Homo sapiens: one gene and its partners. The protein of the gene in region 1 interacts with the protein of each later gene in a pairwise test. Each region holds a gene or a part of one and is shown in the gene's direction. Other genes may lie near its edges. The genes, in order: MFSD6, C19orf18, SLC60A2 and SYNDIG1.

Evidence for each region.
Region 2: the proteins of MFSD6 (region 1) and C19orf18 interact in binary tests that used the Homo sapiens proteins (3 or more experiments, as listed by UniProt).
Region 3: the proteins of MFSD6 (region 1) and SLC60A2 interact in binary tests that used the Homo sapiens proteins (3 or more experiments, as listed by UniProt).
Region 4: the proteins of MFSD6 (region 1) and SYNDIG1 interact in binary tests that used the Homo sapiens proteins (3 or more experiments, as listed by UniProt).

Annotation. Positions count from the first base shown.
Region 1 is NC_000002.12:190,494,700-190,503,429, forward strand, and holds the end of MFSD6 (major facilitator superfamily domain-containing protein 6), read left to right. Parts: intron 1-2,739; coding exon 2,740-3,020; intron 3,021-5,132; coding exon of another isoform or gene 5,133-5,157; intron 5,158-5,315; coding exon 5,316-5,519; 3' UTR 5,520-7,615; downstream 7,616-8,730.
Region 2 is NC_000019.10:57,970,840-57,979,980, reverse strand, and holds the start of C19orf18 (uncharacterized protein C19orf18 precursor), read left to right. Parts: upstream 1-5,446; 5' UTR 5,447-5,548; coding exon 5,549-5,669; intron 5,670-5,777; coding exon 5,778-5,882; intron 5,883-7,476; coding exon 7,477-7,518; intron 7,519-9,141. Other genes in the region: ZNF606 (zinc finger protein 606), read left to right, coding at 1-1,680.
Region 3 is NC_000006.12:111,275,742-111,281,638, forward strand, and holds the end of SLC60A2 (sodium-dependent glucose transporter 1), read left to right. Parts: 3' UTR 1-4,264; downstream 4,265-5,897. UniProt on the Homo sapiens protein: May function as a sodium-dependent glucose transporter. Potential channels for urea in the inner medulla of kidney.
Region 4 is NC_000020.11:24,660,584-24,667,801, forward strand, and holds the end of SYNDIG1 (synapse differentiation-inducing gene protein 1), read left to right. Parts: intron 1-1,863; coding exon of another isoform or gene 1,864-2,016; exon of another isoform or gene 2,017-2,485; intron 2,486-4,762; coding exon 4,763-4,921; 3' UTR 4,922-6,033; downstream 6,034-7,218. UniProt on the Homo sapiens protein: May regulate AMPA receptor content at nascent synapses, and have a role in postsynaptic development and maturation.

The DNA of each region.
Region 1 (8,730 bases):
CAAGCCAATAAATGTCTTTCACCACATAAACAGAATTAAAAACAAAAATCACATGATCATCTCAGTAGACGCAGAAAAAGCATTTGATGAAATCCAGCATCCCTTTATGATTAAAACCCTTAGCAAAATCAGCATACAAGAGACATAACACAGTGAAATAAAAGCCATTTGTGATAAACCCACAGCCAACATAATACTGAACAGGGAGAAGTTGGAAGCATTCCCTCTGAAAATTGGAACAAGACAAGGATGCCCACTCTCACCACTTCTATTCAACATAGTACTGGAAGTCCTAGCCAGAGCAGTCAGACAAGAGAAGGAAATAAAGGGCATCCAAATAGGTAAAGAGGAAGTCAAACTGTCGCTGTTTGCTGATGATAAGATTGTATACCTAGAAAACCCTAAAGACTCCTCCTAAAAGCTCTTAGAACTGATAAATGAATTCAGCAAAGTTTCAGGATACAAAATTAATGTACACAAATCAGTAGCTCTGCTGTACACCAACAGTGACCAAGATGAGAATCAAATCAAGAACCCAACACCTTTTATAATAGCTGCAAAAAATAAAGTATTTAGGAATACACCTAACCAAGGAGCTGAAAGACCTCTACAAGGAAAACTACAAAACACTGCTGAAAGAAATCATACATGACATACACAAATGGAAACATATCCCATGCTCATGGATGGGTAGAATCAATATTGTGAAAATGACCATACTGCTAAAAGCAATCTACAAATTCAATGCAATTCCCATCAAATACCACCATCATTCTTCACAGAACTAGAAAAAACAATCCTAAATTTCATATGGAGCCAAAAAAGAGCCTGCATAGCCAAAGTGAGACTAAGCAAAAAGAACAAATCTGGAGGCATCACACTACCTGATTTCAAACTATACTATAAGGCCATAGTCACCAAAACAGCATGGTACTGGTATAAAAACTGGCCCATGGACCAATGAAACAGAATAGAAAACCCATAAATAAAGCCAAATACAGCCAACTGATATTTGACAAAGCAAACAGAAACATAAAGGGGGAAAGGATACTCTATTCAACAAATGGTGCTGGGATAATTGGCAAGCCACATGTAGGAGAATGAAACTGGATCCTCATTTCTCACCGTATAAAAAAATCAACTCAAGATGGATCAAGGACTTAAATCTAAGACCTGAAACTTAAAATTCTAGAAGATAACATCAGAAAAACCCTTCTAGACATTGGCTTAGGCAGAGATTTCGTGACCAAGAACCCAAAAGCAAATGCAACAAAAACAAAGATAAATAGATGGGACTTAATTAAACTAAAGAGCTTTTGCACAGCAAAAGGAACAGTCAGCAGAGTAAACAGACAACCCACAGAGTGGGAGAAAATCTTCAGTCTATATATCCGACAAAGGACTAATATCCAGAATCTATGACGAACTCAAACAAATTAGCAAGAAAAAAAAAAACACCAAAGAGTGGACTAAGGACATGCATAAACAATTCTCAAGCAAAGATACACAAATGGCCAACAAACATGAAACAATGGTCAACATCACTAGTGATCAGGGAAATGCAAATCAAAACCACAATGTGATACCACCTTACTCCCACAAGAATGGCCATTATCAAATAATCAAAAAATAATTGATGTTGGTGTGGATGTAGTGAAAAGGAAACACTTCTACACTGCTGGTAGGAATGTAAGCTGTACAAACACTATGGAAAACAGTGTGGAGATTTCTTAAGAACTAAAAGTAGAACTACCATTTGATCCAGCAATCCCACTACTGGGTATCTACCCAGAGGAAAAGAAGTCATTATATGAAAAAGATACTTGTACATGCATGTTTATAGCATCACAATTGCAAAAATGTGGAACCAGCCCAAATGCCCATCAATCAATGAGTGGATAAAGAAACTGTAGTGTGTGTATGTATGTATATGTGTGTATATATATGTATATGTGTATATGTGTGTGTATGTGTGTGTGTATATACACACACACACATATACATACATACACAATGGAATACTACTCAGCCATAAAAAGGAATGAATTAATGGCATTCACAGCAACCTGGATGGAACTGGAGACCATATTCTAAGTGAAGCAACTCAAGAATGGAAAACCAAACATCGTATATTCTCACTCATAAGTGGGAGCTAGGCTATGAGGATGCAAAGGCATAAGAATGATATGATGGACTTTGGGGACTCAGGGGAAAGGGTGGGAAAGGGGTGAGGGATACAAGACTACAAATTGGGTTCATTGTATACTGCTTGGGTGATGGTTGCACCAAAATCTCACAAATCACCATTAGAGAACTTACGTAACCAAATACCACCTGTTCCCCAAAAACCTGTGGGAATAAAACATTTTTTAAAAAATAACTATCACGTGGCTTTTCCTGTTTTGACGTCTTTTTAATCATAATCCTGTAAATGGGCCTAAGGCAACACTCATTATAACCTATGCCCCACTGATGTTCTAAGTTAAATGAAAAATATATTTCTTAAATATATATGCTAATGTCTATTAAGGCCTATAAAGAGACCCAAAGATAAACATCATGTTCATTGATTCAGTACTTACACCAAGTAATGAAGTCATTGGTAACCAGCAATTTATTAATATTATCAAGCACTCTGGAATGGGTATATGGGATTCTTGGTTTATTTATTTATTTTTACCTTTGTTCAAATATGTAGAAAATGCTGAAAAAATAGTTTAAACATTCTTTTCTCTCCAGACAAGACAATGTTGGCAGAAAGAATTCCTGTTCCCTCCAGTCCCGTTCCTATAGCAACCATCGACTTGGTACAGCAACAGACAGAAGATGTCATGCCACGCATTGAGCCCAGACTTCCACCCAAGAAAACTAAGCACCAGGAAGAACAGGAAGATGTGAACAAACCAGCCTGGGGAGTCAGCTCTTCTCCCTGGGTGACCTTTGTCTATGCACTCTACCAAATTAAAGAGATGATGCAACTCACAAGAGACAACCGTGCTTCTGAGATACAGCCTTTACAGGTACAGTTCCTTTGCTGGGCTAGCAATATTACCTGTCACTCAAGATACCTTAACTGGGCTCAGTTTTAATTACTCACTTTTCATTCAACAAGATTTATTGAAAGTCTGGTGGGGGAAATAGACATGCAAACAATTTCAGTACTCTGTGAGCACTGAGTTAAAGAGGGTGTATACAAGGTCCCATAGAGAGAATATTCTGCCTTATGGAGTTCAGGAAAACTTCAGAGGTTATGATTCTTTCACTTCTTGAAAGAAATAAAATAAATTAATCCATTCTTTCATTGTATATTTGTTTTAAATTTCAGTATTGATGGTTGTCTCTGTAATTCCAAAATTCTAGTGGGGGCATTATATTATAGGACCACAATAAATATTTGTTGAATTAATTAATCTGAGCCACTGTATGGGTCTGATAGGACACCTAACTCAGTGGAATTATGGTTATGCAGGTGGCCTCACCTGAAAAATAAGTCTAAAAGTGTGATTTTTCTTGTCCCCAGAGGAGTGATCTTTCCTGAGTAAAGTTAAAGCATGTTGATAAAAGTGTGGATAATTGTACAGGTGTATCCCGACTTTGGAAAATGAGTGTAACTTCTATAAACAATTTAGCCAAAGAAATAGGCTCAGTTCCCCCATCTCATGATAATCACTCCCTTTTATTTGATAAGTCACGTCAGCTTTGTCTGGAGTAGCTTCAGAGGACACATAAAAATAAAGGGGAAAGATTTAAAAATAAGGGTCATTTGAGTAATTCCCCTTTCAGAAAATTTGTTGAACTGTTAATTAATCTCACTTTGTAAGCTAACATAAAATCTTTGTGAAATTTTAACCAAATCTGGTTCTTTACTGATAACCATATGCATGCTAGTCCATGCATGATCCTATTTATTAATTTATCAAGATAATAAACTCACATCATTACTCTGCTCAGTCAAGAACCAGATATTGTGGTGGGAGATGCATATGGAGGATTTTAATACCTTAAAGCAAGAAGACTAAACAGGAGAAAGGATGATTTTAATATCTGCTGCTTGAGTAGCAATATTTTCATTACTTTGTGTACTCATCCTCATTTTCACAGAAGCCACATAAAATTTTTGATGTGGCGCTTTTTTTCTGGTATGTTAGGATTAATAAATTTTTTTCTGGGCTGGGCATGGTGGCTTATGCCTGTAATCCAAGCACTTTGGGAGGCCGAGGTGGGTGGATCACGAGGTCAGGAGTTCAAGACCAGCCTGGCCAAGATGGTGAAACCCCGTCTCTACTAAAAATATAAAAATTAGCTGGGCATGGTGGCGGGTGCCTGTAATCCCAGCTACTATGGAAGGCTGAGGCAGAGAATTGCTTGAACCCAGCAGGAGGAGGTTGCAGTGAGCCAAGGTCACGCCACTGCACTCCGGCCTAGGCGACAGAGTGAGACTCCGTCTCAAAATTATAATAACAATAATAAATAAATAAATAAAATGTTTCTGGTATGTTAGGATTAATAAAAACTGGCAGGTATGCTGTAGTTATTCTTAGAAGTCATTATACTAAGTTTCTTTTTCTTTCATTGTAGAATCACAGAAATGAACATTTTTATTTGGGTGTTCAGCCAAAAAGTGATGGGTACTAATTTGGGGGAGAATCCATTTAAATTTTTTTTTATTTGTACAACCAATATGGCATTTATGGAAATTGCTGCTGGTGATGTTCTACTCATGGTTATTTACAGTTGGTTACACAAGTGCTTGTTTACATTCACTTCTTTATGTGGATGTTCTGTCTTATCTAACTTTTGGTGCACATTTTGAAATACCAAATATATATCAGGACTCTTAATTACAGGACATTCTTTCCCAGCTCTGCCTCCAAGGATAAGAACCCCTTATTTACCTCCTGTTAGACAAAGTGTCTTCTGGCTCTTGGATTCTGTGGTCTTAGCAAGCGGCCTGAGTTTCAGTTATTCCATAGTGCTTGCCCAGCGACTTGCCACATGGCTTGGGGGGCTCAGTAAATATTTGCTGATGTAAACTGTTTACCAAGTACTAACAGACATTTTGGTAGTAATGTTCCTTTTTCCACAAGACACGTCTGCTTATAGTGTTTGTGTTTTTCATGCGGCTCTGGCAGTTGCACATAGGAAAGGAGATGAAAGGTAAGACATTCTATCCTTATTCCTCTATTACTTGGTCCCTGAAATGGGCACTTCCGGATGATCTCCCCATGTTTCCTGTCTTACTTGAAAGCATATATAAAAAGTTGGATTTATTTGCTATCACTGATCATGGGGCATCTCCTGTTTTTTACCTCCAGGGGACCAATGAGAATAGGGAAAATTCTCCTGCTGGTAGAGCCCAGCCTGTCCCATGTGAGACTCACTCTGACCCATCTAGAAACCAGCCATCCCCTGACGCAGCAGCATCTCAGACGCAGACCAGCCCCGCTCACCCCAGTGTGGACCCGTGCACAGAGGAGAGTGAAGAGCAGCAGGCTCAGCTGGCCGCGGGAGGACACTGAGGGCATCCTGCTCATCTCACACCCTGCATGGAATCAGGCTCCTCAGCCAGGACACAGGGTGAGGCCCCCCAGCCAGGATATGCCTCCCCTGGAGGAGCACAGCACTGCATATGCTTCTAAATATCTAAACTCATTAACATGGAAACACACACACAGGAGCTACAGTACATATTGGCAGGAAAAGGTAAACTTTCGTAATCTCATTGGAATTACAACAGGGAAATGGAGTTCAATGAGGACTTTCAGTTCTTTGCTTGGTTAGGTTAAGGATGATAGAATTTCTCTGCCAGTGCAGTAAGAGTTGAAACCGGCAGTTACACTAAGTAAGTGGAGGGAATGAAAGTGTTTCGAGGTGAATGTGGATATAATTTCCCTCTTCTGATTATTTATTCTTATTTGGTTCCTAACACAAACTGGGAAGAGATAGAATTCATCTATACTTTCTTTTTTCTTGGAGAGAACCGTTTAAAAAATTACAAGATATATTTAAAAAGTAACCAGATAAAAGTAGCACATGTGCTTTTGTTAAAAATAAAGTTAAAAGTTAAAGTTAAAAAATGAAGTTAAAAGTTTCATCAGAAACTTTACATATCTTTAGCAAATATATTTTTATATGTGTATGGCATATAATGGAAATAATTCTTTGAGCAACAGAAGCTATTATTAACTACTGCAAGCTAAGCCGAGCTTAAAAATGCCTTTTGTTTTAAATGGGCTTTGAGAAAAAAAACAGAAACAAGCGATTATTTCAAATCAACCAACCAACTCAGTATCCTGTGTTTTGATAGACAAGAGTTTACTAAATATATTGATACTGTAAATAGCCTCTCTCGCTATTTACTATCTTATAGTAATTCAGGCTCTAATTAGCTGAGGGAATGAAACACACAAAAATCACTGAATTCCTAAGAGTTCCTTAAATAAGCAGTACTAGTTACAAATCACAGTATAAGATTTAAGTGCCTGGGGGAAGGATACAATTTTTAGAAATTACATATTGGGTCAGTTTTGTTTTGTTTTTGGTGAGGAAAAGGTGGTAAATAGGAAACCATGAATGGGAAGGATGGCAATAAGTAGCAACTATACTTTCCAATGACTAAAGAAAGAAAATCTCAGTATATTCGTTCTCATGAAGACACAGTCAGACACTGGACAATGTAATGTATGCAACTGCAAACGTTACAACTGCAGCCAGAACAATGGCTGGGTGGATCGCACGTAAAGCTTGCCACTAAAAATCAAAGCAGAGGTTAACAGGAAACCTGGGGGGAGTGTGGAAAAGGGAAAACTGTTTTAGCTGAATAAAGGTGAATTATATAATTTATAATAGCTGTGGATGAGCACAGGAGAGAGAGGAAAGAAAAGAACAGTCGAAATGAGCAACTCACCTTACCCTCTGACCCTGATTAGACAGGATCAATTGTAAAGTGAGGGCTTCTCCATGACACCATAGTTCTGCCCAATACTGCATTTGGGATAAGAAATTCTACACTTGGATGTCTCGCTTCACAATAAAACACAGCTTAAAAATAAAATAACTGAAAGAAATAGAATTCAGCAAATAGTTATTTTTTGCACTTGAACTGAAACGTACTGTACTGTAAATTATGACTCATTTTAAGTGACCTTTAAAATCAGATGTATTTATTATGCTTGTGTAATTATAGAAATAAAGAAATGGGTGACAGGCTTAACCTCACCTATGAATGTACAGTATGTGGATTTGTGAAACTGACTGTAGGAAGTCAAAAACTTGTACTGTATCTTGTGTTTACAGTTCTGATTTATTCCTTTGAAAAGCCTGCTGTTTTGGAAATGCACAGTTGACATGTTGAAATAAAAATGAATACCATTTTTAAATGTTTCTTAAATGATAAAGATGTGACCAAACAAAAGTCCTATACTCTAATGAATGAGACCAAATTCAACATGCCTTTGTTATGGAACATTTACTGTGACAGCAGAATCGATAATGCAGTCATTTCCAGCCTTGTGAGCTGACACCTTCATGGGTTTGTGGACTTTGTGACTTTTTCTTCCTGTCCCCAAAGTGCCATATGCTACCTTAAAAAATATTAAAGTGAATTCAAATTACATTTTGATTTGAGATTTTGTAACCCCTCTTGAGATCCCTCAACACACACAGGGGTGTCACAGAGCCCAGGCTGGTAATCACTGCCTTAATGACTTACTTCCTACTCTTTCTCCTATGGTTGTAGAAACAGTAAATTACCGAGTGCTGAGCTTGTGTGGATCCAAAGTGGTTAACTGCTAATTATTGAACTATTCCTCAAGTTTTAGGAATAGATTATAATACATACATTGTCCAGCAGGCAGTAAACCTCATGAAAAGTGTTAAGGAATTCACAGGAAGAGCAACCCTGCTTTACTGGCTTATTAATCCTGCCATGGGTCACATGAAGTGGATAGCTGGCTAATAGCTTCCCTCTAATTGGCAATTCCTTCCAGTACTGCTGAGGTACTGAGACCATTACTTAGGCAATATTCCTCTCTGCCAATTTGGAGTTCAGCAGGGAATCTAGGAAAAGGGAACCACATCCGTGGATATTGGGTGCTTGTAGTGTGCTGATGAGATTATCATTTTGCCCTTAACAAAAACTGGAGGTGTTCCTATCACTATCCCCATTTTAAACAAGAGAATTCTGAAGCTAACAGTTTAAGTTATGAGATCAAGGTCACAAAGCCAGGATTCAAACTCAAATCTTCCTAATGTCAAAGCCCTGGTCCGCTTAGCACCTTACCCCACCCCAGGAGGCAGGGAGGCCATTCCCTGCATCTGTTATGGCAGAGGAAGCCATAAAGCAGCCCAGCCTGAACCATTACCATACATGCCTGATATGTGTATGTGTGTGGTTGTATTTCCATTTAGGATTTCTAGATATTCCTAGATTCCTAGAAATGCTTCAAATTCCTGATGCTTTGTGAAATGTAGGTACACCAGACCCTTTACACTCTGCAGGTGAGTTGGCTGGACTGATAACTGCACAGGAAACCCAGAGGTTGGTAGGGACTCTGGCCAGGGCCATGGAAATCAGGAAGGGAAAGCAGACACACCCACAGCTCTGTACTGTCCGGTAGGACTTACTGGGAAGATGGGAAGTTCTCTATTTACACTGTCCAGGATGGTAACCATAAGCCATATGTGGCTATTAAACAACTGACATGTGGCTAATTTTCTGGGGAATTAGGT
Region 2 (9,141 bases), on another chromosome or scaffold:
ATAGAACATTTCTATAAGCCTGATACACATGCTCAAAGTTGGAGATGTGACTCAGCCATAATGTATGCAGATAAGGTTACCTGTGAAAATAATGATTATGACAAAACTGTTTATCAGTCCATTCAACCTATTTACCCTGCAAGAATACAAACTGGAGATAATCTTTTCAAATGTACTGATGCTGTTAAATCTTTCAATCATATAATACATTTTGGTGATCATAAAGGAATTCACACAGGAGAAAAACTCTATGAATATAAGGAATGCCATCAAATCTTTAACCAGAGCCCATCATTTAATGAACACCCAAGGCTTCATGTTGGAGAAAACCAGTATAATTACAAAGAATATGAGAATATCTTTTATTTCTCATCCTTTATGGAACATCAAAAAATTGGTACTGTAGAGAAAGCGTATAAATACAATGAATGGGAGAAAGTCTTTGGGTATGACTCTTTCCTTACTCAACATACAAGCACTTACACTGCAGAGAAACCCTATGACTACAATGAATGTGGGACGTCTTTCATCTGGAGCTCTTACCTTATTCAACATAAGAAAACTCATACTGGAGAAAAACCCTATGAATGTGATAAATGTGGAAAAGTTTTTAGGAATCGCTCAGCCCTTACGAAACATGAACGGACTCACACTGGAATAAAACCCTATGAATGTAATAAATGTGGAAAAGCCTTCAGCTGGAATTCTCATCTTATTGTACATAAGAGAATTCATACAGGAGAAAAACCTTATGTTTGTAATGAGTGTGGGAAATCTTTCAACTGGAACTCTCATCTTATTGGACATCAGAGGACTCATACAGGAGAGAAACCTTTTGAATGTACTGAATGTGGGAAATCATTCAGCTGGAGCTCCCATCTTATTGCCCATATGAGAATGCATACTGGAGAGAAACCCTTTAAATGTGATGAATGTGAAAAAGCTTTTAGGGACTACTCAGCCCTTAGTAAACATGAAAGAACTCATTCTGGAGCAAAACCATATAAATGTACTGAATGTGGAAAATCCTTCAGCTGGAGCTCCCATCTTATTGCCCATCAGAGAACTCACACGGGAGAGAAACCATATAACTGTCAGGAATGTGGCAAAGCATTCAGAGAACGCTCAGCCCTCACTAAACATGAGATAATTCATTCTGGAATTAAGCCCTATGAATGTAATAAATGTGGAAAATCCTGTAGCCAGATGGCTCACCTTGTTAGACATCAAAGGACTCATACTGGAGAAAAACCCTATGAATGCAATAAATGTGGAAAATCCTTCAGTCAGAGCTGTCACCTTGTTGCTCATCGGAGAATTCACACTGGTGAGAAACCCTATAAATGTAATCAGTGTGAAAGATCCTTTAACTGTAGTTCTCACCTCATTGCACACCGGAGAACTCATACTGGAGAGAAACCATACAGGTGTAATGAATGTGGGAAAGCATTTAATGAGAGTTCATCCCTTATTGTACACCTAAGAAACCATACTGGAGAAAAGCCCTACAAATGTAATCATTGTGAAAAAGCATTTTGTAAGAATTCTTCCCTTATTATTCATCAGAGAATGCATAGTGGAGAGAAACGCTTTATATGCAGTGAATGTGGAAAAGCCTTTAGTGGTCACTCAGCCCTACTTCAACACCAGAGAAATCACAGTGAAGAGAAACTGAATTGAATTTATGCGAGTTTTTCGTTTCTTGTACATTTGACAACACATTGAGGAAAACCCTATAAACATAATCAAGAGGGGACATTTTTCATTAAGAGTTCAGTAAGACTTCTCCCACATTATTTACTAGAAAATATCATCTTAGAAGAAACCCCATGAAGGAAAAGAATAGGGAAAAGCTTTCAGCAGTTATTTAGCCCTTACTCAAAATCAGATAATTAACAATGAAGGAAACTCTAAACTCCCCTTATGGTCTACCAGTAATTCATACTTGAGGACCATGACTGTGGGGAATGAGGCATCTTTTAGCAAGAGCTCTCACCAATTGTAGATTGGTGTGAATTGCTAAGGGAAAAACCTTATGCAGAGAAAAGTTTTTGACTGGAAATACACTGTTTTGCATCAAGCTGGAGTACTGGATGGAAAACTCTACAATAACATTTTGTGCATAATTGTAGAAATACAGATTTTGTTGTTATAAGGGGAGGGTCTGGGTGCCCAGGAGTAGAATATGAAGTGCTAAATCTGAATGTAAGAAAAATAATAGTATTGAATGGGGTATTTACTGTTGATTAACCTCCTTAGAGAAAATTAATGAATGAGATGACTAACGGTAGAAAAGTTATTGCCTAGGAGTGTGAGACTGATGTTGCTGGACAGAAAGTGATCCTTAGCCCAGTGTGTCAGCGTCCATTGTTACTCATCACTGCATTGTTGGGCAATTAGTTTGTAATTTGTTTTAGGCAATCACTATAAATTATAATTATGGACACTGCATCAGTATACATAACATGAAGGAATAAAAAGGATACAGAATTGTATATACATACTTACTGTAACACATCTAAAAAAATGTATATGGGTAAGGACCTGAAAGATCCATGGAAAAGTTAACCCAGTTGAGATTTTTAAAAAGTTTTACAAATACATATAACACTTATGTGCTGGGCTTTCTTTTAAATGCTTTCCAAGTGTTAACTTGTTTAGTCCCCTTTACTCTGAGATAGGTACTGTTACCCCAGTTTTACAAATGGCTAAGCTGAAGCAGAGATGTTGAAGGATCCTACCTAAGGGGCACAACTAGTAAGGGAGTAGAGCTGAGATTGGCTCCAGAGTTCTTGTTTTCAGCCACCATTTTATGCTGCCTCTCCAGTGATTTTTTTTCCCATTTTCTTCAGTGTTTCTATAGCAGAGATTTGATAATAAAAAGAAAATCCTAAACAATGAGAAATAAAGTTACCTGGTTTCTCTGTCTCGAAGGATTTATAGTAACATGAGAACTAGTATCCCTTTGGAATATGAAGTCTGTGTTGGACATTCAGAATCACTGCATTTTCTGGGACCTGAGTTCCCTAGAACTTTGCTGCCTGCAACCCCAAGGATAACAGGGCAGCAGGGCCTGGAGGACTTGCTGGAGGACTGGGCAAGTCCCTTGGTGGGTTTAGAATGCCACTTACAGAGCAGAGGGCAGGGGTGTTTGTTCCTTTCCATAACTAGACACCACTGCACTTCAGAGCACCATTACCCAAGGTTTACCTTGAATTCGGTCTTTTATTTTTTTGAAATCTTCTGCAGATGAAAGGCTTACTTGAAGGAGCAGGATTCAGAAGGGAAGAGAGCTAGCCAGTCCACCTAGAGTAATGAAGTCTCAGTGTTCACAGGGGAAAAGGGGAAAGATGGATCAGAAGACTTGGGTGGCTTCTCTCCAGTTCATAAGTATTTCTAAAACTGGGGGCCAAGGATCCTTCCTGGATAGGCTTCAAGGGTATTGAGTGGAACTTGGGCTCATAAAGCTCATCTAATTTTTAAAGGGCCCATGGCTTCCCAGTGGTTGAGAAATGATGGCCTAGTGATGTCATTGGGAGGCTGTTATTTTCACCTTCTGACTCTTCTAGCTTGGGCTCACTTAGGTGTGTAACATTTGATTGTAGTCCTTTCAAGGCCTGACACATTAGTGGTCACCTGATAAATGTGGCAGGGGCAAGTTAGTTATTGATGGATTTTTTTTTTACATGATTTGTGCAAAGGCCCTTGGAGAGAATGAAGTTAGCAGTATTATCTCATCTTGGAGAAAGCAGCATAATATATCCAGAATCATACTACCAGTAGGATGTGGATATTGTATTCTAATAGCCAGAGTGAATCCAAATTATCTGATTTAGAGATTCCAAAGGATTTCATAAGTCATATGCAATATACCACAAGCATCCTGGTAACTTATAACCTTATTACTAAGATTATTATCTTGAAAAAATTTCTAGGCCGGGCACCGAGGCTCATGCCAGCATTTTGGGAGGGACAGGAGGATTGCTTGAGCTGAGGAGTTCAAGGCCAGCCTTGCAACGTAGCAAGATCCCATCTCTGTTTAAACAGATAAGAGTTTTTTTAATGTCTTAAAGGGCCTCCTGGCAGGGCACAGTGGCTCACTCCTGTCACCCCAGCACTTTGGGAGGCCAAGGTGGGTGAATCATGAGATCAGGAGTTCGAGACTGGCCTGGCCGCCAACATGGTGAAAGCCCATCTCTACTAAAAATACAAAAATTAGCTGGGTGTGGTGGCAGATGCCTGTAATCCCAGCGGTTCCAGAGGCTGAGGCAGGAGAATCGTTTGAACCCAGGAGGTGGAGGTTGCAGTGAGCCAAGATTGTGCCACTGCACTCCAGTGTGGGTGACAGGGCAAGACTCCATCTCAAAAAAAAAAAAAAAAAAAAAAAAGGGCCTCCTGTTGGTCAGGTCACATCACGAGTCAAAAGAAAGTCCCAGACTTCTGCTTCTTCCTGGAAGTATTCCCTTCCTCTCACCTATCATGCACAGCCTGGACAGTATTGATTTCAGTGGTCCCTAACATCCAGCACTCCCAGGTCCCCTCTGTCTCCCTCATACATGACATAGTTCATTGCCTTTTTTGAGCCCGTCTTCTATTCCTCCCATCTCTGAAGCCTAGGGCCCACTTTCAGTCATCAGGAGTCCCCCTTTACCTTCCTGCTGTGGGTCTCCCCTGTGCACATTGCCTCCCTTCTAAGGGTGACTGCTTTCCTTCCACTTTCTTTTCTTTCTTTCTTTGTGCAGTGGTACGATTTTGGCTCACTGCTACCTCTGCCTTCTGGGCTCAAGTGATCTTCCTGCCTCAGCCTCCCGAGTATCTGGGACTACAGGTACACGCCACCATGCCTGGCTAGTTTTTGTTTTTGTGTTTGTTGTTTTATTTTTTTGAGACAGAGTCTTGCTCTGTCGCCCAGGCTGGAGTGCAGTGGCATGATCTCAGCTCACTGCAACCTCCACCTCCTGGGTTCAAGTGATTCTCATGCCTCAGCCTCCCAAGTAGCTTGAACTACAGGTGTGCACCACCACGCCCAGCAAATTTTTGTATTTTTAGTAGAGATGGGCTTTCACTGTGTTGGCCAGGCTGGTCTTGAACTCCTGGCCTCAAGCGATCTGCCCACCTTGACCTCCTAAAGTGTTGGGATCATAGGCGTGAGCCACCGTGCCCATTCCTTTTTTCCTGAACATTTTCCAAGTGAGGTTGTTGGAAATCACGGATGGGGAACTATGCATGCGGAGGGCTGACTGTAATTGATTTCTTTCTGCCTCCTCACTAATCTGCACACTGCAGGCAGGGACCTGGTCTCATCATGCCTGCACCTCCAAGCACTGCCCTCTTACACTGTAGTCTCCCCATTGGTCAGCATGGTTCCATGAAGGAACTCCATTATCACAGCAAGGACTGACCTCACACTGGTGGCTCCAAGTCACTGCCCAAACATTCTGAAGGGAGTAGAACTTCTTGATTCCTCAGATAAATAGAGGACAGATGCTGGACTGTAGCTAAGTATTTCCTTTCATCTACGGGATAAAATACTGATAATTTGAGAGTGATGGACAAGGTTCAGAGTGGTTTCCTCATTTTGTTTTTGTTTTTAATGGAATGCCAACTTCATTTATGCTTGCCGTATGCAGATGGACTCCATCCCACTGGAAACATAACAGGCTTACCAGGTAGCTTCAACCACTGGTTTTATGTGACTCAGGGAGAATTGAAAAGCTGTTTCAGGGGAGATAAAAAGAAGGTAATTACATTTCACCGCAAAAAGTTTTCTTTTCAAGGCAGTAAACGGTCACAACCACCCAGAAACATCACCAAAGAGCCCAAAGTGTTCTTTCATAAAACCCAGTTGCCTGGGATTCAAGGGGCTGCCTCGAGATCCACGGGTGAGTCATTGAATTCCTCATTCAGTGGAGTGAGAATCGTAGCCTGGAGTCCTCTTATCTGCCATGTGAATGTGTACTGTGTGCTTGCTGGTAGAAAGGTCCATAAAATAGAGTATAATTAGATAAACATTTGCTTGGAAATTAGATCTTATGCTCTTCACTCTCTGTTAACTGCTTTCTCTTTAGGGATTGCCACTTTCTTCTCTTTTTCATTTCACTTTAATAAGCGCACACAAAAACCTTGATCCCATCCAGATTACACAGGTATGCCTGTCTGACTTGAATTTGGTGCACATTTGGCAGTAGAGCATGCAAGTCTAGACACAGAAGGTTTGTGAGTGTACAGAATTCTTTTTTTTCTTTTTTTTTTTTTTGAGACAGAGTCTTGCTCTGTCGCCCAGGCTGGAGTGCAGTGGCGCGATCTCGGCTCACTGCAAGCTCCACCTCCTGGGTTCACACCATTCTCCTGCCTCAGCCTCCCAAGTAGCTGGGACTACAGGCACCCGCCACCACGCCAAGCTAATTTTTTGTATTTTTAGTAGAGACAGGGTTTCACTGTGTTAGCCAGGATGGTCTTGATCTCCTGACCTCATGATCCGCCCGCCTCGGCCTCTCAAAGTGCTGGGATTACAGGCATGAGCCACCATGCCCAGCCGAGAATTCTTTATAAGCATTTTCTATGGTTCCCTTCTAATTTGAGTACTAGAGGATGTTTGTTTATCTTATAACAGCAAAACCAACCCCGACAATCTTTGAAGCTCAGCAACCCTTTGTGGAGATATATGATGCTTGTAAATAATCTCCATTCCATGCAAGGGAAATGCTGTCTGTGTGATACATTTGCATGTAATTTGTGTCCGAGGAAAGGACACTATTGTTGGTTCCCTGGCCTCTCTGCCTGGCTCTCTGATCCTTTTTTTTTTTTTTTTTTTTTTTTTTTTTTTTTTTTTTTTGAGACGGAGTCTCACTCTGTCACCCAGCTGGAGTGCAGTGGCGCAATCTCGGCTCACCACAACCTCCACCGCCGGGTTCAAGCAATTCTCCTGCCTCAGCCTCCTGAGTAGCTGGGACTACAGGCGCGTGCCACCATGCCCAGCTAATTTTTGTATTTTCAGTAGAGACGGGGTTTCACCATGTTGGTCAGGCTGGTCTCGAACTCCTGACCTCGTGATCTGCCTTCCTCGCTGGGATTACAGGCATGAGCCACTGTGCCCAACCCTTGCTGACCTTCTAATGAGGTCGTAGCCCCTTCAACTCTAAGTCTCTCCAGGTCCTTAATTTGGGCAGAGATTTCCCAACTTGTATGACTGCAAAAGGAGACCAGAAACCAAAAGTATCCTGTTCCTAAAGGTCATTCTTCATGACAGGAAGCACCAGGTGCAAAAAGAACAGCAGGCTCACCAGGCTTCTGCAAATTAACCCACACATTGCTGCCAGGCATTGGGAGGAATGTATTAACACATCCCATCTTAGATATTTGGAAGCTGTGTGTTCGGCGTCCTTCTCTAATGCTAAGTTATTTCCTTGTTTTCCCAAGTTCATCTTAAACCATCTTAAAGTCTCTTCTTTTTGATCCCCTTTGATGGCCTTTTAGCTGCATCCCCTACGAACCCCATGAAATTCCTGAGGAATAAAGGTAAGCCAAGGGATCTGGGAGGGCGGGTGGACCCGCAACATTCCTGAAGCTGTCGTGATGTGTGGCTCCAGAGGGTGCTGGCTGGTCACCAAGGAGCCTGCACACGTGGTGCCTTCATGTGTGTTAGACAAGGTGCCCCCTCTGGAGGGGGATGCGCAGTGACACCGCTTGGGGCAGGTGAGAAGGTGGCTCAACTCCACGGGCTGATGTTGTAGTGAGTAGAGCACAGGCTGTGTCTGAGATCTCTTTGTGGAACACACAAAATGCATGGGCACACACAGCGGCCCTGTCAGCAGCCTTTCTAGCAACTCTCCCCACTGTGGCTTGTCCTGGAACCTCCTCAACACCTCTCGCTTCAGAGTCCTCCAAAGCAGAAGGCACCTTGTGTCCTGCTGCTGCTCCCGCCCCAGAGCATCCTTCCTTCTCCTCTGCACATTTGCTAAGTGCCTGCAACAGGGCGGCTTCTGAGTCAGCTCCCCCACCACCTACCCATCTCCACTGCTTTCACATGTAGCCAGCATTTTATTTAATCACATATGCTGAGTGAGACATGCAGACACAGAAATGACTGTCATGAAGGAAGAAGCCTGATACTCACGGGTCCCTAGAAGCAGGAGTCCACACAAGGAAGCACCAGGGTCTATCAGAAGGCAAAGGGAGCCAGGAAAGTGTGAGCAAAAGCCTTTATTCTGGGCCGGGTGCGGTGGCTCATCCCTGTAATCCCAGCACTTAGGAAGGCCGAGGTGGATGAATCACTTGAGGTCACGAGTTCGAGACCAGCTTGGCTAACATGGTGAAACCCCATCTCTACTAAAAATACAAAAATTAGCCAGGAGTGGTGGTGGGCACCTGTAATCCCAGCTATTTGGGAGGCTGAGGCGGGAGAATCGCATGAACCTGGGAGGTGGAGGTTGCAGTGAGCTGAGATTGGGTCGCTGCACTCTAGCCTGGGCAACAGAGCGAGGCTGTCTTTTTTAAAAAAAACAACTTTATTCTGGTTTTTACAGGAAGGCAGGTAGGGAAGGCGGGCTTGGGATCAGCTTGAGTGATTTGGTGGCTGTGGGGCATGGGGTATGTCCCTGGTTGTCTGGGACCTGGCCCTGGGGTGGTTGGGGGCAGGGGATGGTGGCCTGGAGCATGAGGGCTCCATAGAGATTGTTGGGGTGTAGGCTTTGGGTGTGTCGGCTTGCACATGAAAGGTGCACTTGCAGGCCAGGGTTTACTATCTTCAGGAATTGGCTGGACCTGGGAGGGCAGTCTCTTCAAGGGTCAGTTAAGGCCCCAAGATGTCAAAGTATCAGGAAATACAGAAAATAAAAAACGTGATGAATACATCCATCCACGCCAAACACATTATCAATCTTCCTAAAGCTCAGCTATGACTGTTTCACCTGCCCATTGACACCACCATCACCAAAGCACAGAGCTTGAGTCCTGGCTGGGGTATCAAAGGCCTGCACACTGGTCCTTCTTTTGACACTAGCTCGTTTTGTGTGCTGGTGCTAGAAGGTCACTGAGACCTCTGCCACCCCTGAGCTTCAGGTCCCAGTTGTAGGTAGGATAGAGACGGGACAAAATTGTTTATCTAATAAAGTTGATGGTCCGGGTGCAGTACAGGCTCAT
Region 3 (5,897 bases), on another chromosome or scaffold:
TTTCCAATAAAAATTATTTAATTTTGATAAAATATACTTAATGGAAAAATGTATCTTTTAACATTTTAAATTGTACAGTTCAGTGGCATTAAGTATATTCACATTGTCTTACAACCATCACTTCCACTCATCCACAGAACGTTTTTTACCTTGCAAAACTGAAACTCTGTGCTGTTAAACAGTAACTGCCATTCTACGCCCCCATCCCAGCCCTTGTCAACCACCATTCTACTTTGTCTATGAATTTGACTGCTCAGAGTACTTCATATAAGTGGGATCATACAGTTTTTGTCCTTTCATTACTAGCTTCTTTCCCTTAACATAATGTCTTCAAGGATCATCCTTGTTGTAGCATGTGTTAGAATTTCTTTCCTTTTTAAGTCTATGATACACCATTGTATATACATACTATATTTTGTTTATTCATCTGTCAGTGGACATTTGTGTTGCTTCTACATTTTGGCTGTTGTTAATACGCTGCTGTGAATGTGGGTGTACAACTGTGTCTTTGAGATCTTGTTTTCAGTTCTTTTGAGATATATACCCATAAGTGGAATTGCTGGATCTTATGGTAATTCTATTTTTAATATTTTGTTGTGTTTGTGTTTTTTGTCTTAGATTTTTTTCTTAATCAAGTTTTTCCAGAAGAGAGTAGCTTTAGGAAGAGAATAAACACATACTTTTAAGGTATTATCTCAGACTTTAGGCGCATTATGATCATATCAGTAGCACCCATGTACTGAATAAGTGAACTCAAAGAAAAGTTATGTTGGGCAACTACCTCAAAGTTTTGTTATCTCTGCTTGCAATTTTTGTTCAGTCATTGCACAAGTGCTTGAGGGCTTACTGCATGTGAGGCTCTGTAGACTAAGTATTAATGAACTTTCTTTTTTGTCCTTGCAGTAGCAGGTACAGCTTTGATCTCAGTTTTCTGCCAAATGAATGGTTCTGTGTTTTGTGCTCATTCGTTTACAGAGATCCCTCTGAACCACCTTGGAACCAGAAGGTGTGTGGTCTGAGAACGATAAATGGGCTGCTCTCTGCCTCTCTCACAGCAGTTCTGCCCCTCCTTGGGACCACTCGTTTTCTGCATTCCTGGCCCATCTTCTATATATCTCTGGTCCAGATTCCAGAGGAAACCTGTTTGACTTGAATAGATGCCATTGCCCTTATTGGGCCTTGCCTCAGGAGTTCCTCTGTGTATCTCTGGTCCAGATTCCGGAGGAAACCTGTTTGACTTGAGTAGATGCCATTGCCCTTATTGGGCCTTGCCTCAGGAGTTGCTGGTTAGCCTATGAAGGGGTTCCCTTTGGGTTGATGACATTGCTCCCATCCAGAAAGTGGCTACTTCTACCCTCCTACTCCCACCACTCTGCATGCAGGAGCTGTTATCATCAAAAGGGAATGTCCACTGTCTGCTCTGTACCAGAGAAGTGCTAGGCTTCATAAATATTGGTAATCGATACCTGAATGGGATGAAAATTGGCAGGTCCTGGGATGGATGGCCTGGTTCATCTGCATCAGAACTGGAAAAACAAAATCACACCAAATTGCAGACTTTTTTGGAAGAGCGTGTTAGACAAGGTTTGTGGATTGTTTGATTTTTACCAAGAAAGAAAGCTTTCTCCTAAGAGGGTAAGATTTCTACTTGAGTGAGCTCTAAGAGGAGTCCCAGTTTGCAAGAGATATTATTACAGTTCTCATCTGTGCGGACCAGAAAGTTTTCCAAATTCATGCATTTCAGTTATCTAACAGATATTTACTGAGCATTTACCATGTTCAGTAACCAGGGCCCTGGGAATATAATAGGAGAAGGCAGATGAGATCCTTGCCTTCACCAAGCTTATGTTTTTCTATTTTAAGTAAAATTTGCCATGACAAAATTTCTATCAGCGGAAGAGCCAGTAACTCTTATTGTAATAGGTTTTACCCAGTTTTAGAAAAGGAAAGTAGCTAAACTCTTGGTTCCTTGGTGTGTGTTTTTGTTTGTTCATTTCTAGTACTTGTCTATGTCTTTGGGGTAATTTTTGATTTAGAATTTTGTAGAAATTACTCGGCACAGTGTAGTTGAGGTGAATATAGGCAAGAAGGCTTAGGAAGCCTACAACAAAGGAATCTGACACCAACTTTTGAGATTTATTCAGTCCAGCCAAGAGAATATATTTATGGTCAAACTAGATCTTGGATTACAGCTCCAAAGACCCTTGGGCTGACAGAGCAGGTTCTCATTTCTCAGCTCTTTCCCTTATCACTTGCAGTGAACTCTGCCCCCAGGAGCAGAGTATCCAGTTCTGTGTCCAAGCACTCTATGAATCTTTACCCTTGTTGAAGAAATACTCAGAGACAGAAGCATTTAGAAAAGGAAAAGTTTACCTGCAAAGAGAGCAAGAGAATGACTGGCTTGCCTAATAAAAAACGTAAGTATTTGAAGGAAAAAATTAAAAACTGCCAAGGTTTCTGAGTTTGCATTAGACTGTTCACGGTGAAAAACAGTAACTGCCTCATGTAATTATTGTATTCATAAAGGTTATGGCAAATCTTCAGATGTAGTACAGGAAAAACCAAGGATAAAATTTCTTAGGGAGTCCAGGTTTATGGGAAACATTCAAGGTTTTATTGTTTTTTAGATCATCAACAGTTAGATGACCCTATCATTTTTGTTTTGTCTCAGGGTGCAACGTCTTTCTTTTCTGATGGTGATTGATATAGTTTGGCTGTGTCCCCACCCAAATCTCATCTTGAATTCCCATGTGTTGTTGGAGGGACCTGGTGGGAGGTAACTAAATCATGGGGGCAAGTCTTTCCCGTGCTGTTCTTGTGATAGTGAGGAAGTCTCACGAGATCTTTTGGTTATTATAAGAGGGAGTTTTCCTGCACAAGCCCTCATTTTGCCTGCTGCCATCTATATAAGATGTGATTTGCTGCTCCTTGCCTTCCGCCATGATTGTGAAGCCTCCCCAGCCATGTGGAACTGTAAGTCCAATAAACCTCTTTTGTAAATTACCTAATCTCAGGTCTGTCTTTATCAACAGCATGAAAACAGACTAATAGAATGATATAGGAAGTTCTTAGTCTTACTGAAGCAAGGGAAAGTGACATTTTGCTTCTACACCCTCCAGAATTCATAAGCTCCAGAAGGAAAGAGGACCCAAGGGAAAAACGTGATTGCAAAATGTGTTCTTGTCCTCTGCCCAAGTGATTAACCTTTGCTCCAGTGGTTTTCAAACCTGGCTGCTGTTAGAATCACCTGGCAGTGTTTAAAAATGACTGATGCCCAGCATTTTAACTTAAATACCAATTTGGTCTGGAGTGGAGCCTGAGTATGGATATTTAAAAAAGTAACTCCTCCTCCCCAATCCCCCGTAATTGTAATGTGCAGCCAAGATTGAGAACCACTGCTTTGATCAGTGCACAAAACTGGATCCTCTACTAATGACCGTGGTTTTTTCTTAGGCTTACTTACAGATTGATTAAGTTATGCCACTTTTGTAGATCCTTGAAATTCTGTGCACTTTCTTTCTTTCTTTTTTTTTTTTTTGAGACAGAGTCTCGCTCTATTGCCCAGGCTGGAGTGCAGTGGCGCTATCTCAGCTCACTGCAAACTTCACCTCCCGGGTTCACGCCATTCTCCTGAGTAGCTGGGACTACAGGCGCCCACCACTGTGCCCAGCTAATTTTTTGTATTTCTAGTAGAGACGGGGTTTCACCACGTTAGCCAGGATGGTCTTGATCTCTTGACCTCGTGATCCGCCCACCTCGGCCTCCCAAAGTGCTGAGATTACAGGCATGAGCCACCGCGCCTAGCCTGTGCACTTTCTTAAAGGAAAACTGGAGAGGAAGAGATCTCATGTTTTCTATTCACTCCACTGCTGCTTGGTCCAGTGCAGGAAATATTGCTGTTATTTGAAGTCCTTCCTAAAACAAAAGCTCAGATCTTTTGGAGGTTGCCCTTCTAGGCAGGTTTTCACCAGTCAATTTTGATTTGGGGGGCTTAACAGAGTAGGAATGATCTTGCAGGTTTATTACATCTGAATTTAAGACTACTCACCTAGGCTGGGCGTGGTGGCTCACACCTGTAATCTCAGTGCTTTGGGAGGCCAAGGCGGGAGGATACCTTGAGCCGAGGAGTTCAACACTGCAGTGAGCCATGATCACACCACTGCATGAGTGAGACTCCATCTCAAACAAAAAAAATAGACTACTCACTGTTTACATAGCTTTGTACCATATAAAAACTTGTTTGAATAAAATATTGATAACAATAGTGATGTTGGTTTAAGATTCATGTTTCAGTTGTTTCACTGATTTTTGAATTGATACATAATAGCTATGCATAATTATGGGTTCCCTGTGATAATTCGATACATGCATACAGTGTGTAATGAGCAAATCAGGGTAGTTGGGATATCCATCACCTCAAATGTTTATCATTTCTTTGTGTTGGGAACATTTCACATCTTCTCCTGTAGCTATTTTGAAATATACAATAAACTAGTGTTAACTGTAGTCACTCTACTGTGCTATCAAACACTAGAACTTATTCCTTCTGTCTAACTGTATTTTTGTATTTGCTAACCAACCTGCTGCCCTCTGCTCTGTCCCCTACCCTTCCCAGCCTCTGGTAATTATTATTCTACTCACTACCTCCATGAGATTAATTTTTTAGCTCCCACATCTAAGTGAGAACATGGAATATTTGTCTTTCTGTTAAGTGAAATAACTCCCTTAACATAGTGTCCTTCAGTTTCATCCGTGTTGCTGCAGATGATAGGATTTCATTTTATTATGGCTGAATAATATTTCATAGTGTATATACCACACTTTCTTTATCCATTCATCCGTTGAAGAACACTTAGGTTGATTCCATATGTGGTCATTGTGAATTGCTGCAATAAACATGGGAGTGCAGCTGTCTCTCTGATACACCAATCTCCTTTCCTTTGGATATACACCCAGCAGTGGAATTGCTGTATCATATGGTAGTTCTATTTTTAGTTTTTTGAGGAATCTCCATACTGTTTTATGTGGTGGCTGTACTAATTTACATTTCTCCAACAGTGTAGGAGCATTCCACTTTCTCCACATCCTGGCCAGCATCTCTTTATTTTCTGTTCTTTTGATTATAGCCATTCTAATGGGGGTGAGGTGATATCTCGTGGTTTTGATTGCATTTTACCGATGATGAGTGATGTCAGGCATTTTCTTTTTTCTTTTTTTTTTTTTGTTTTTTGTTTTATAATCAGTTTCTGTTTATCCAGAACATTTTTCATTTACATGTTGGCCACTAGTATGTCTTCTTTTGACAAATGTTTATTCAGCCGGCCGTGGTGGCTCGCGCCTGTAATCCAGGCATTTTGGGAGGCTGAGGCGGGTGTATCGCCTAAGGTCAGAGATTTGAGACCAGCCTGGCCAACGTAGTGAAACCCCATCTCTACTAAAAATAAAAAAAATCAGCTGGGTGTGGTGGTGGTCGCCTGTAATCCCAGCTACTAGGGAGGCTGAGGCAGGAGAAGTGCTTGAACCCGGGAGGCAGAGGTTGCAGTGAGCCTAGATCACGCCATTGCACTCCAGCCTGGGTAACAAGAGTGAAACTCCATCTCAAAAAAAAAAAAGATCTATTCAGATCTTTTGCTTACGTAAAAATCAGATTACTTGGTTTGTTGTTGTGTGTTTTTGCTATTGAATTGTTGAATTCCAAATGTATTCTGATTGTTAATCCCTTGTGAGATGGGTATGTTTTTTTTGTTTGCTTTTGTTTGCTTTTGAGACGGGGTCTCAGTGTCACCCAGGTTGGTGTGCAGTGGCACGATTTCAGCTCACTGCAACCTCTGCCTCCCAGGTTCAAGCGATTCTCCTGCCTCAGCTTCCCTAGTGGCTGGGACTATAGACATGTGCCA
Region 4 (7,218 bases), on another chromosome or scaffold:
CAGATAGGAGACAGAGATGTCACAGCCACCCCAAACTCACATTGTCACAGGAGGCTTGTGCTCTCGTACACGGCTTGCTTTCTCATCTGGGCACTTGGCAGGTTCTTCTCAGGCCCACGCTCACCTTCGCATCCCCAGCTTCAGCCTGCTGGCACAGGCCCTGTGTGTCCATCCACTTGCCCCTCAGCTGGGCTCTACTGGATAGGACCCAAGACCATGTCTGGTCCCTGGAGAACACCTAGGCCTTTGTTCCCTGCCCAGCCAGGGGCTGGTCATCTCCACAGAGCAGCACCCTCCTGGCCCCACCCCTGAGGGGGCCGGTCAGCCGCTTGCCTTTCAGAGTCTCCAGGTAGGAACCGGCTGGTCACCCGCCCGCAGTGCTGGACATGCATGGAGCCAGCAGGGTCCCATGGCAGCTGCACCCCCACAGCCTGAGTGAAAAGCAAATGCCTTCCTTCTGTGGATGGGACCCAGGCTCAGCACACCGTCAGTCCTTCAAAATGCTTCTCAGCCTCCAAACCATTTGTGGAGGCACAGGCCTTGAGGCATCTAAATTTGTTCTGCTCTCTTGTTTAGAAAATAGGCAAAGGCTGCTGGGGGTGGGGGCGGGGAGGTCCCCGTCACCATCCTAGGGTGTGTCTCTTGTGATGTGGAGCCTGGGATGGAGCTTCCAGCTGGACCTTCTGTTACAGAGCAAGTGAGCAGAAGAAAGAAGGAGGGAGGGAGGAAAGGGGAGGGAGGGAAGAGAGGGGGAGGAAGGAGGGAGAGAGGAGGGAGGGAAAACCGAGGGAAGAGGGAGGGAGGAAAGAGGGAGGAGGTAGGAAAGAAGGAGGAGTTAGGAAGGAGGGAGGAAGGAAGGAGGAAAGAGGGAGGAAGTAGGAAGGAGGGAGGGAAGAGGGAGGAAGAAGGGAGGGAGGGAAGAGGGAGGAAGGAGGGAGGGAGGAAAAAAGGAGGAAGGAGGGAGGGAGGAAAAAAGAGAGGAAGGAGGGAGGGAGGAGGGAGATGGGAATAAAAAGTAAGGAAGGGAGGAGGGAGGGAGGAGGGAGGGAGGGACTGGCCTTCAGCATGCCAGCATATGCCAAGATACATTATTGGATAAACCAGGGACCTCAGGTGGGCATGAGAAGGGGAGACACGAGGGGACTGGGCAAGGGCAGCCTGGCCACTCCCCCAACTAGAGCAAGACCTGGATCCACCAGGAGCGTCAGAAGGAAGCAGGGCCTAGAACCCACTCCCAGACCTCTCTGCCACCTTCACAAGAAGCCACTCCCTTCAGATAGAACCATTCCCCAAAATGTGACCAATGGGCAGGGTGGGGGGTTCCACCAGAGAGAATTGCTGGTGGGTTTCAGCATTAAACACTACCACCCATGGAATGCAAATTGACTTTGTCCCTCCACAAACTGGTCATTTCTCATCACGAAGCCATGACCAGCATGACCTTTACATGTGGATCAACAGCTCTCGGTCCTTTGACAGCCAGTTCCTTTGACTTGGCCACTTGATAGTGACCATTCAACCTAAGGAGGTGTGACCCAGCGGTGGTACGAGGTGGCTGGACCTCAGTTCTAACGGTGACAACTTCAGCTAAAGCACGTTTGTTCTGGCTGTCCGTCCTCTGCTTGTGTAACTTTTATTTCCTCAGTGTGAACAGCGCTGCACTTGAGGGACAGGAAGGGGGTGCTTCCATAGCTGTCATTGCTATGGCGCAAGTTTACTTTTACTCTTCAATTTAAAAATCGGGTCTTCTACATATCTTTGCAACTAGGGAAGAGAAAGCAGGTCTTTTAATTCCAGAACCGCAGTGCACAAATCATGTTCCAGTGTGGGCTGTGCAGGAGCTCAGTGCCTGGTGGGTTTCAGGTTGCAGGACATCTCCCTTGGGGGCTACGTCTGATGCCCTGCAGCCAGCCCTGCCGATGGAGCCCAGCTGCTTCCTGCGTTCTCAATGATGAGTCCTTGTGCCCTGGGCTGTTAAGGCTGTGCCTCTGCTGTGAGCTGAAACGCTTTCTCTGAAGAGCCCTTACAGTGCAGAAATAGTGTCTTTGGGTCCTGCTGAGCCCCTACCCCCAGCCCACCGCTGGCACAAGGTGCAGGCACTGGGCACTGCTTGGGGCTTCGCCAGTCACCTGCACTTTCTAACCGCCTGCACTTATTTTCCAATGAAAGGCCAATAAAGTCACAAACTTCACTTGCAACCTGTTGGCAAAAGACAGGGAAGGAAAACCAGCCACAAGAAATAACAATCTTGACAAACTTTTTTGCACCTACACACAAAGCCTTGCCTTCAGCTCAGAGACTCTTGGACTCAAGACAGTTTGCCCTGCCCTCATGCACACCAAAAATCTTGTCAAAGAGCCAGGAGCTTTCGTCCAGCAGCTGTCAGGATGGAAACGTGTCTTCCCATTTGCACCCTGCCAAAGGAATGAGCAAGCTGTTTCACAGCCACAGTTATCCATTTTCTGAGACAAAAGGTTCATATCAGGTAAATCACCTTCATTAGACCACGTTGTGTGTTTTGTGTATGTAAATGACGTCTCTGCCTTGCAGGAGTGGGCACTGCAGAAACTCTGGCTTCTATGACACGCAGATGCCGAGTGACGTTGCTGAAGGCAGCCTGCTTGCTAAGGCTGCATCTGTTTGCTGTTTCTGACATATCTCCAGCGATCAGGCCCCTAACACACCACATTCCCTAGGTTTCTTGTTAGAGCCAAACATATAAACCGGCGTATCAAGGTCCCCCAGCGTGGAGAATGAGAATAAAGAGCAAATGTGATTCTCAAGCAGACACACCAGCTTGAGCATGAGAGCTCTGGTGCGTCTATATGCAGAACCTGCAGAGTTGGGCCAGAACTGAGGTCAAGAGTCAGCCCCGTGCCACTGCCTTCCTCCTCAACACCACCAGAGAGACTGGAACTGTGCCCCAGTTAGAGAAGTATCGCATTCCTCCTGTCCCCCCAGAGCCCAGCCCAGGCCCCAGGGAGACCACAACACACAAGAGAGACATGGGCTCTGCCTTGGGGAGCTTACAAGTGAGCAGGAAGGCAACTATTCCGCAAGTGGGTACTCAGATGTGTGAGCCCTCATGAGCTCGGGAAGCCCGGCATGGGTGTTCCCACAGGGGTCAGGGAATGAATGCTGCTGGCAGGTGCCCAGTCAGCTGTAGCAGCTCCACCTTCCTCTCTGCACCCCTTTGCATAGCCCTGGGGATGGCACTAAGGCTGGTGATCATGGCGGGGACACAAAGCCATGACCCTAATGAGCAATGACTCTTTCAGTTAGCGCTAAGGAAAGGCAATTACAGGAAATTGTGTTCGAAGATGTGGGCGTGTGTGGGAGCACTGCTGCATGAAACAGACTTGGCTCACCACGACTTCATTCATTCATTCATTTATTCATTCATTGTCCTAGGAGGCTTCCCATTTTGCATCCCTTTATCTCTGCTCCCTCCAGAATTGTCCATAGTGAGCTCTGAAGCTCAGTTCCAAGACAAAAAGTTGGGGAGGAAAAAAATAAAAACTAGCTTTTAAGATCCGAAAGTTAGAGGAGCGAGAAGGAAGCCAAGCAGCGGCAGGCATCCCTTCCCCACACGACACAGACTTCCAGAGCTCAGAGACCATGGAAGATGCAGGTTCACGTCATGAGCCATCTCTGAGTGTGAGCCTTTCTGGTCCACTGCAGAGGTGTTGGTGTGTTTTAGCTGGTGTGTTTGAGTGAATGACATGCCGACTCCCATACTCACCTATAAAACCTAGTAATGTCACTGACCTTAGGTGGAAATGGGACCCGGTAGAAATCTGGCTTTCTGGAGACGGCCATGAGAACGAGCTAGGACATTCTGCCAGGGTAGTCCTGACCACAGGGGGCCCGCGGGTGGCTTGGGAGTCAACCCTCCTCAGCATCACGTGGGCTCCCGTGGCTCAGTGCTTTGGTAGCATCTCACCCCATCTGCCAAATGAGCCATTTTACTCCGGTGATCCCTCCATGGTGGCCTCCAAAACCTCCATGTTTCCATCTCCTCGTGACCCCAAGAATCATGAATTTGATTACACCAACACCTGGTCATGTCATTGAGCACTCAGGAATATAGGTGTTAGTTTTGTATCAAATGATTTTATTGATGGATGAATTTTACTAACGCCAACCATGTCCAGGGTGGGGACGGTCAGGAAGTGAATGACTCATGGCCACAGCAGGTGAGGCAGCTGAGGAGGAAGGTTTCAGGTGTCCTCCAGTGGTTTTCATGATCTTATGCCGGAGTTTCTCTCGGGGAAATGGGAACTGTCATTGCCTTCCGCACACCTCCAGTGGGTAGCAGAGATTCAATAAGATAGATAGAAATATGCTTTAGAAAATTACGAGTTATTCAAATAAACAAGCACACCATTCTTGGGTAGAAAGAGCAGCACTAGAGGAGTCTTATCTAGCCCATCCCTCAGTACTCGTGCTGGAGATCCCAGACCCCACACTGATGGAACTCAGTTGGGCTACTTCCAGCCTTCTCTTATTCCCTTGGGGCCAAGTAGAAAAGAAGTCTGTCTTCCCTGCGGTGTGGGGGAGCAGCAGCAGGCCCCAGCCCCACATTTGTTTCTTGCAGTTAAAGAACTGCCCTGGTCATAGCAGGGGTGAGCACAGTTTCCCCCTCAGCCTTCTCTGCATCAACAATGCCTTTTTCTGAATCAGGAGCCGTAGATGAGCCCTCCACTCACTGCTTGTTCCGACTTGCTTACAATGACTTCCTTTTTCTTCTCCAACTCTGCAGACCAACAAAGCCGTGGCCAAGGGGGACTTGCACCAGGCCAGCACCAGCTCCCGGCGGGCCCTATTCCTGGCAGTGCTGTCCATCACCATTGGGACTGGCGTCTATGTGGGCGTGGCCGTGGCCCTCATCGCCTACCTCTCCAAGAACAACCACCTGTGAGCTTCCTGCGAATGGAGGGGGAGCACCCGGGGCCAGGTCTGTGTGGACGTGGAGGAAGCAGGCATACCGCATGATGCTGTACAGTACAAATGATTGCCAAATGATGCCACGAAGCCCTGGGATTTCCTACCCATGGATTTATTTTGTTTTTATCCTTTAATTTCATGTTCACAGCACTGTGTAGAGCACCAGACAGACGGGCACTGCTAATCCTTCCAAAGGAAAGCTCCAAAGATCCCAGCCCGCAAGGCTGTCTCTGGATGGATTCTGGTGGATGAATGGCAACGCGGCTCTCTGCAGCCTGCCAGTGCCCAGAGTGCCACCGCATTAGCAATATACAAACAGTCCAAAAAAGTGTTTATTTTTTATGGAATACGGTGCAATAGGCAGAGGACAAGGGACACATCACTCTTCTGTCTGTGGCCCTGCTGGAGTCCTTTGTGCCCCCCGGAGTCCACACGCCTTCCCTGCAAGACGAGAATGGGGCTGGGAAGAAAGAGGCAACACCACGGCTGGCAGGAGCCCCGCTGCACTGCTCTGCAGACCCATTGGCCTGACCCTGAGAAGCAGAGCCAGCAAAGCCCGGGACCTGCCCCTCTTTCTTTCCCTTCACACCACCCCAGCCTCAGGATGTCAAGCCACCTCCGGAACGTGTCTACACTCCACAGCTACCCCGCAGCAATACGCACTCTTGGGACCTCGCTGATCTAGGATGGGGAGGCAGGCCACCGCCCCTCCCAAGACTCCTCAAGAAAGAGCCCCGCGGTTGCTCCGGAAACTCGAGGCACTGCAGCTATGGGCACTGCCTCAGCCTAAAGACACAGGGGCGCCTCCCAATCACCGCGCTGGCGGATGCTCACCCCGTCATAAGCAGAAACTAGTGATCCTGGAAATGAGATGGGCCTTACTCTGTCGACTAAATGAATAGCTATTTTCTTGTCATTTTTTAAAGTGCAACTCTTGCTTCATGCTGCTTAAGTTACCAGATGAATGCTGAGAAATAAGTAATCACAGACATTTTAATACCATTTCATTGCTGTTTTACGAGTGTTCATTACTTAACAAAAAATTATCTTTTAGCTTTTTCGCTTAAGACTTTTCTTTCTGATGAATAGCTGTCGTTGGGTTTCATTTATACTTTCCCCTTGTGGTTTAAGGAACTGCAGAGCCACCCAGGCCTCCACTGCTGAAATAGTAGGGGGGTCTCAAGGAGAACCAAAGTCCCTGCCGCTTCAATTTCCACCAGTAAATATGATCGTCCTAATCCCCTCAGTGGACACAGAGACCCCCTCTCCAGGACGGTGGCTCCACCGGCAGCACTTCGCAAATTCCTGAGGCCTGGGTCAGCCCCAGGCTGACTTGATGGGTCAGGATGTGGCCTTGTAACTGCAACGTGAAGCCAAGGTTGAGAACCACTGCCCTGGACTAAGGTCTCTGTGTTTGATCCTTCTGCCTGAAACTCTCCTCCTTGACCTTGAACATTTAATATTCTGAAAATTATTAGCACTGTCTTCTCGGGTCAAATTTGAGATCCATCTAGCATTTGTCTCTACTGGGTGGTTCACAAACACTGTAGGATGTTAACCCTAAGAAGTAGATAAGGAAGCCAGCCAACACCCCTGTAGGAGTTAGAGTCACTGGCCATGGAGGGCATAGGTTTAGGTTCAAACCAACCTGGATTTGAATCCAGCTGTGCTACTTTCTAGCTGTGTGATCTTGGGTAAAGGTTTACACCTCAGTAGGGCACAGTGGCTCACACCTGTAATCCCAGCACTTTCGGATGCCGAGGAGGGTGGATCACGAGGTCAGGAATTTGAAACCAGCCTGACCAGCATGGTGAAATCCCTGTCTCTACTAAATATGCAACAAATTAGCCAGGCATGGTGGTGGGCACCTGTAATCCCAGCTACTCGGGAGGCTGAGGCAGGAGTATCACTTGAACCCAGGAGGCGGAGGTTATAGTGAGCCGAGATTGTGGCACTGCACTCCAGCCTGGGCCAGACAGAGCAAGACTCCATCAAAAAAAAAAAAAAAAAAAAAAAGGTCTACACCTCTCTGAGCTTCGTCTCTAGGAGAGGATAATCAATAAGGCCCATTTTGAGCTTCGTCTCTTGGAGAGGCTAATCAATAAGGCCCATTTTGTGGGGTTGCTGGGGAAGGCACGAGGCACAGACCATCACGCCTGGCAGGAGCAGGTGGTCATGGTTACTATCATGTCCTTGGCTGGCTGTCCCATGGCTGGTCAATGTCCCTCCATCTCTCAGGGTTCATTTATCACAAGTCATTGTGTCAAATGG